2 linked regions of the Homo sapiens genome follow. The protein of the gene in region 1 interacts with the protein of each later gene in a biochemical or structural test. Each region holds a gene or a part of one and is shown on either strand. Other genes may lie near its edges. The genes, in order: GPBP1L1 and MFHAS1.

Region 1 (3,913 bases):
AGTGGTGAGCCCCTGTAATACCAGCTACTCGGGAGGCTGAGACAGGTGAATCGCTTGAACCCAGGAGGCGGAGGTTGCAGTGAACAGAAATCAAGCCACCGCACTCCAGCCTGGGCAACAAGAGCGAAACTCCGTCTCAAAAAAAAAAAAAAAAAAAGAAAAAGAAAAGAAAAGAAGGAAAAAAAAGTAAGTAACAAATACAAAGCACTTTAAACAGCAGTCAGTCCCTGGCACATCAGAGTTATAGCCATAAAATAAAGATATGCAATCTTCTGAAGTATGATTCACGATTGTGTCTTATCTTTAACTCAAAATTAAAAATGAATTACAAGCAGAAATGTGCACCAGATTTCTTATCATTCTAAATTTAAATGGTTGAATGTGTCCTCCTCAGCTAAGCATTTTAACAGCCACTGATGAGCAATCTAGTAAATTGAATTCGCTCAAAATAAAGGTTTCCCCAAGAGTTCCCCCCACACCACAAATCAAGAGCTCTGATAAAGACACCATCCAGAATCAACTGAATGTTTATATTAACATGTACAAACCACTGAGTACCCCCCCAAAAAATCAATATCTCACTCCAGTTTAGTAGTTAACAGTGACAAAACACAAAGCAACTAGCTTGTAATTTCTATTAAAAACTTTAAATATTTTTCCTGTAAAACCACCAAAATAATTTAACAACAACAACAAAAAATCCTAGGGGTATTAACAAAAACCAACTTTTGTATTTGAAAAAACGTCAAAAGGTACATTGAAAACTGACTCCCTAGGAAAGATGAGTTTATTTTACTATTAATTTCAAAGTTCTCATTCACAATTAGCATTTCACTCTTTTATCTTTTAAATAGATACAGGCTTCAGCACCTTTCCAAATATTGAAATTTATTGGTTTTGGTTTCCAATCTATGACTTTTTGTTTAAACTTCTGGATCTATCGATTAAAAAAAAAAAGCAAACAAAAGACAGTCTCTTGTTCAAAAGGGCACGACAATCAGGTACTCCATACCTAAAGTATGTTTTCACTTGTTAAAATGTCTTACACTATTCTAGTAAATATCTCAAACTTAATAGCACCCTAATTTCCTTTCAAATATTGGATAAAAAAGACCTTAGAAAAGATCAGCAGTCTACTAAATTACAAATATAAGTCTAATGAGGAGTGACTACCAATCACTTTACTTTTGGATAAGATTTACACAAGAACACGACTTACTACTAAACTAAAACATGAACCACTATTATTAACTGTATTTTTCTGGTAAGCAATAAATGTCAATGTTAAAAATATTTCAACAAATATGACAAGCCAACTTCAGAGCACGAAGTTGGCAGATAAAATTGACACCACAGCACAATTTCAAAACTATAAGCAACTATTAAACACACACACCACCGCACCGCACCCATTCTTATGTAAACTTTTGGAATAGTCAACTTTGTGAGCCTCACCTTTGTTTTCACCCAGCATAAGGAGAGTTAAAGGTGAGACACCAACTGCAAAAAACCAAAATATCAAAAGATTCAGTTAATGTCCCCACAGGGGAAAGGACTAAAATCTTTAAACGTTAATGTATTTAAGTAATCGAAGGGCAGGGCACTTCCCCAAGCTACAGCCATTTTGGATTCAGACTGTCTTTCGAATTTCACGGGTTGGGGAGAACTAGATTTAAAACAACAGAAAAAAAATAACACTTAAAACATTTCAGGATCGACCAGCTTTCCCTGCCCCTCCAAGGAAAGGAGGTTGGTAGATATCGGATAGACTCAATCTAAGCGAAAACACCTCGCTACCACAGAGAACCGGAAAGCTGGGGGTTAAAACTTTTTTCCCCTCAGATATCCAACATTTGACTTACACTTTTTCCTCCTTAGGTTTTCCTTTGAAGGAAAACAAAAGCCCTTAGCTCTCATTTCAAGAAGGAAAGAAAAAAACCCGTAAGCCAAGTCACTCAACGAGCACCAAGCCGGATCGCCTGGAGAGGAGCCAAAGAGCCGCAGGTGAGCGTTCCGACCCGACGACCGAAGTTAAAGTAGGAGCGCTTTCGCGGAGCCCCGGCGACGCTCGCGTGCAAAGCTCCATGCACGGGGGAGGCGGGGGTGCCGCATCCGAACCACTTGACCCGTGGGCTCCGCTCGCCCCTCTCGGGTCGGACCTATACCCAACCACCTGTGTGAGAGCTTCTTTCAACTAGTTTTAACAGCCCGTTGGTTAGGCACCGGGCGGAGCCCCGCGCCAGAACGACTCCAGGATCTCCTACTGCCCCGTTTCCCAAACTCCCACTCACCGGGCAGCGGCGGAGCTATGGCCAGGGACTAGACGCTGCGTCTGAGGACGCGTCCCCAGCTTGTCGACCCGGCAGAGGCGGCTAGTCCACAACCATAACAAAGCTCTTCCCAAAATGGCTGCCCGGCCCACAAGGTCCAGGAGGGGCAGAGCGGGTGGAGGAGGAGGAGCGACCAGCAGCACGGCCCTCCCATCCCCCGTCCGACCCCGCCTTACACACGCCCACCTGAAGAAGCGCATGCGCAAGGGACTGCTCCGGCGACCCTCCCGGACGCCAGTTCCCTACGCTGCCAACGTTCGGCCTCCAGAACGGCGGTTATGCCCTGCCCCGCCCCCGGCTCCCTTCTTCGCCGCTTGAGGCGGCGCATGGTCACCTCTGCCCCCTACAGAATTGAATCCTCTGCCTTTCCTCGTGCCGCCTGAGGCACGGACAAGCCTAGTTTAGTACGCCCCTTCTAACCCCCTTGCCCACTTCCAGGGCCTGGGCGCGTATGAATGAGTGGGTGGGTATGCATGTGTGTATCCCTTTTTTCTTCACCCTCCCACAGCCCGCCCCTTGGCCAGTGCGCGTCCCGAAACTACCTCTACAAGGACTTGCAAACCGGTTTCGGAGGAACGTGTGTTTTCCGGCCCTTTCCCACCTTCCGCTCCTTACTTCTCGTGTGCGCGTCGTTGAGACTCCAGTCCCCAGCGGGCCACACGGCCTGGCCCCGGAGGCTGCGCGGCTGCGTCGGCCGCGCTACCCGCTGGGAGTAGTAGTTCCCCTGGAGCGCAGGCGTCACTCCCCCGCCCAAGCGAAGGGCGGGATTCCGGCGAGAGCCTGCGCTTGCGACAGTGCCGTTTCTCCTACCTGAAGTCTCATTGGGTATCGCACTACTGGAAGGGGCGGCGCTGCCATGACAGAGAAGGCAATAAAACTGAAGGCCTAGCTCGACTAAAAGCGCTTACTATTAAGGAAGACTTCGCTGTGGCTCCATCCGGCACGGAAAGCTAAACCGTGTAATGGCTGGCAACCAGGAAGCTAGACTACCTAGAATCCGGAGGATTGGAGGGACTGGCCGGCGTGGGCCCCTGAGATCTCCTACTACATGTCTTCAGTTTTATCCATAGACACGGAAGGGCACTAAAATTGCCTGGTGCCATTTCCTGTGAAACAAGTCTAGATAAGAGAAGGGACTTGCCCAAGGTCACATAGCCGAGAAATAAAGCCGAGGGCAGTAGGAGAAATGATCTGACTTTCCGAACCACCCCCAAGCCTAGGGCCCTTATCACCACACCTTTCATGGAAGTGAAAATCCTGCTCTTGTGCTCTTTAACCCTTAATGAAGTTTATAGGTCCCAGCAAAGAAAATGGATGTAAGAACTGGGCTTTTTTCCCCCTCTAAATGATAGTAAAGGGCCCTAATGCAGTGAGATGTGTCCCCATAGGCCTTATAAACCCTGTTTTGCAAAGTAAAACATAAGTCCCACAGATGGCAAGCAATTCAGGTCACACTGGGCCTAAAATCCCGTCTCTTACCTTCCTTCACCACCATCATTCTGAGATTGTTTCAGTACTTGCACTCTACTTACCCGAACTCTGTGGGCAGATTCTGCTGCCTGGGAGCCCTGGAATAGAACTTC
Region 2 (3,813 bases), on another chromosome or scaffold:
TTTCCAATGTCTCACGTGGCATCATCCCTGGATGTCTGTAGGCTTCACAGGTGTACAGCTGAATTTATTGCCTTCCTCCCGCAAAGTTCTTCCTCAGTCTGTGACCTGTCTTGGGTAACAGCGTAGCTTTGTACCATCGGCTCCAAGCTAGGAGTCCGTAAGCCTCATTGCCTTCCTCTGCTTTCTTCCCTATATGTAGTAATTCTCCAACACCTTTTATCCCATCTCATCTGTGTCGTGACATGAATGAATTTGACCCACATCTTCAGCTTCAGCCTCGGGCTTCCCTCTAGGGCCCAACCCCCCCAGCCACCACTTCCCCCGTCTCTGCCAAGGTTCCTGTGACTGAGTCTCAGCTGGCTGCCTGCTCTCTTATCTTTTTGTCCTTCAAACCGACAATAATTGTCTTTTAACATCAGACCTCATCACATCTCTCCCTGTTGAAAAGCCTTGGATGGCTTCCTGGTGATCACAGGCTCAAGTTCAAACTCCTGGCCGTGGCTCACAAGGCCCTGCACAATCAGACCCAGCCACTCTGCCAACACACAGATACTCCCTTACCATGGGAGGTCAGCCGTGGTGGGCCGTGGCTGCCTCTCAGTCCACTGGCTGGCTGCTGCCCTTCTCTCCTACCCAGTTAAGGCCCATTGGTCGCTGAGGCCAAGGTCATATGTCAGCTCCTCTGGGGAGCCTCCCGTAACCATCCTAACTGTAACCAGTCACTCTGTTCTTCATGTCTCCTCAATACTTTTTGTTTCTTTGTTTGAGACAGAGTCTTGGTCTGTCACCCAGGCTGGAGTGTATTGGCACAATCTTGGTTCACTGCACCCTCCGCCTCCTGGGTTCAAGCAATTATCCTGCCTCAGCCCCCCGAGTAGCTGGGACTACAGGCATGCACCACCACGCCTGGCTAATTTTTGCATTTTTAGTAGAGACAGGGTTTTGCCATGTTGGCCAGGCTGGTCTCAAACTCCTGACCTCAGGTGATCTGCCTGCCTCAGCCTTCCAAAGCAGTGGGATTACAGGCATGAGCTGCCGCACCTGGCTCTCCTCAGTACTTTTTATATACCTCTTTTGGTAATGATCTCATAGTATCTTGGCTACTTTTTACCTGTGGCTTTTTCATCACATCTGACCCATCATTCATTCAACAGATCTTTGTTGAGTAATTATCCTCTAGTAGGCATTGGGCCGGGTGTTGAGGATACATAAAGAACTAAATCAAATCCTGCCCTCCAGAACCTAATAGCCTCTTTGGAGAAGATAGGAATCAAAGCCATAACCAGGCAAACTTATCAGAGTCTAATTATAATTGAAACATGGTACCTGCCATGATAGGTGTATGAACAGAGTCTTGTAAGCACAGGGAAGAAAGAACTCTACCAGGAAGAATCAGGAAAAGTTCCAGGAAGTCGTACTTGAGATGGATCTTGAAGAAGGAGGACAAGTTTATGGAGCTAGAGAGGTGGGGAGAAACAGAGAAGGTTGGTGATTTTGATGGTTGTTTTCTCTAAGATCCCAAATGTGGAAAAAGGCATATAGATGTGAAACAATTTTCAAGCTGGTTGAACAGTGGGATTTTCCGTCTAGGTGTCCTTGATTAGGTATTCTTGTGTTTCTCAGTCTTACGTGTAGCCCGGGGAGCAGACTGTCTGCATTTCTGAAGGTCTGTCAGATTCAGTGGGAAAATGTTTATGTAACACATCTCCCACGTGAACCCAAAACTCACACCACCAAAGTTAGCTGCTAGGTTGAGACGTGTGTTTTTACACTGGCGTCCTCCTTACAGTTAGATTGATTATATTATTAGTTGAATTTGAGGCAGTTTTCAAAACCCTCTCTTCTGGGAGTTTACTATATTAATAGGCATTCAAAAAATTCTCGTGGCAGAGTGCCTTAGAAATGTGAAACTCTTTCCTAGGGCTCCAAATATCCAACTTCTCTTTGAGCTTTGGAGTCAGATCACCCTAGTGAAAGGCCTGGCTCTGTCACTCGCTAGTATGCACCCTTGGGGAAGTTATTTCATCTTTTGGAACCTTAGTTCCCTTCCTAGTAAGATGCTGAGGCCGGGCGCAGTGGCTCACACCTGTAATCCCAGTACTTTGGGAGGCCAAGGTGGGCGGATCATGAGGTCAGGAGATCAAGATCATCCTGGCTAACATGGTGAAACCCCATCTCTACTAAAAATGCAAAAAATTAGCCGCGTGTGGTGGCGGGCACATGTAGTCCTAGCTACTCGGGAGGCTGAGGCAGGAGAATGGCATGAACCCAGGAGGCGGAGCTTGCAGTGAGCCGAGATTGCGCCACTGCACTCCAGCCTGGGCAACAGAGCGAGACTCTGTCTCAAAAAAAAAAAAATAATAATAATACTGAGTAAGATGGAGCTTACATGGTGGGATTATTAGGAGTTGAAGATAAATAATGCACTAGAGTGAACAACCTAATTCCTGGCATGTAGTTAGTAAATGAGAGGTTTTTGGTTTTTTTGTTTTGTTTTGTTTTGTTTTGCTTTGCTTTGCTTTGTTTTGGTGATGTCGTTATTATCATGCTTGAATGAGCCCATGACTGAATCTTGTATGGACTGGAGAAGTGTTTAGGCAGATGCTGAATTATCAGTGTCCATGAAATCAGCGTCTCTCCTAATGAGAGATGGGGGATTGGAGGAAACGAATCGTAACTCCTTTTTCCTTTCCTTTCAATGTCTTTGTATATTTTATTAAAAGTTGCTAAAAAAAAAAAACCACTTTCAAAAACATCCCATCACATGTCATTGTAGGGAAGCAAAAATGAGAAAAACACTTGATATTTTTTCCTCTAACCATTTTATCGGAACTGAATCCCGCTTTATTTGCTGAGGCTGCAGTAGTTTATTCATTCTATATTGATCAGACTCCAGATTTGCGTGGACAACTTAACTTATAACATTTTAAGTAAAATCATGCATTTTAGGCAGACAGACATCTCACTTTTTAGTATATATTCCTTCTTCTAGAGGATTATTTGGTGTGTGTCTGCGTGTGACCGTGTGTGTTTATTGAAAGGAAACAGTTCCGTGTTTAGAGTTTTGGGTTGTTAGTTAGAGGTCTAGTTAAGCTATAAAATTACAGTGGAATAAGTGATGACAGCCAGTTAGTACAGTTCCCTCTTATAGCTGAACTGAGCTTAACACACCAACAGAAATGTTTGGCAAATAGACTGCTAAAATGACTCTTTCCTTTGTGGGGACATAAGTTGCCTGACATTTACATGTTTATAATGAGTCCTGGAAGTAGAAATGAAAATATGTGCAGAAAATAGATTTCTATCATCACTTCCTTTTCTTATTGAGGGTAGCATTGTCCAGTACGTTTTTGTCATCTCTGTGCTTTCTTGTTGTCCACCCATACAGGAAGAATGTTGGTGAAAAGCACAGAAACCAGTGACGTTTGTGGCTGTGGAATTTCCATGGAGAAAAGAGAGCATCTGAACACCTGGACCATCTTTTGCACCTGGCAGACCCTCTGCACTCACCCCAGCGTGTTCTGTGAACTTGAGTGACAACGCGTGCTTGCAGGGTGCTTTTTGGACGACTGGGGAAGAGGTGGGGAGGGGGTGGTGGGGGGAAGCATGGACGAGAACATGGAGCAAATGTTTTACAACCTGAACCTCAGAACTGTGATCCTCCAAGGAGCGCGCTACTTGAAGAAAAGAAAAAAAAAAAAAAAAAGTCGAATGGCTTCTCAGGGATTTTGTTTTCCGTGCACATATAAGCCATAGTTACAGTACAGGTGGCAGTATTTAGAGCACTCAGATTTCAGTTCTGTTAAATGTGAA

The links.
Region 2: the proteins of GPBP1L1 (region 1) and MFHAS1 form a complex in vitro, tested with the Homo sapiens proteins (one large-scale study listed by BioGRID and IntAct).

The regions. Positions count from the first base shown.
Region 1 is NC_000001.11:45,684,121-45,688,033, forward strand, and holds the start of GPBP1L1 (vasculin-like protein 1), read right to left. Parts: upstream 2,414-3,913; 5' UTR 2,292-2,413; intron 1,501-2,291; 5' UTR 1,456-1,500; intron 1-1,455. UniProt on the Homo sapiens protein: Possible transcription factor.
Region 2 is NC_000008.11:8,785,631-8,789,443, reverse strand, and holds part of MFHAS1 (malignant fibrous histiocytoma-amplified sequence 1), read left to right. Parts: intron 1-3,388; coding exon 3,389-3,422; 3' UTR 3,423-3,813. UniProt on the Homo sapiens protein: Probable GTP-binding protein. Functions in innate immunity and more specifically the inflammatory response as a regulator of the Toll-like receptor TLR2 and TLR4 signaling pathways.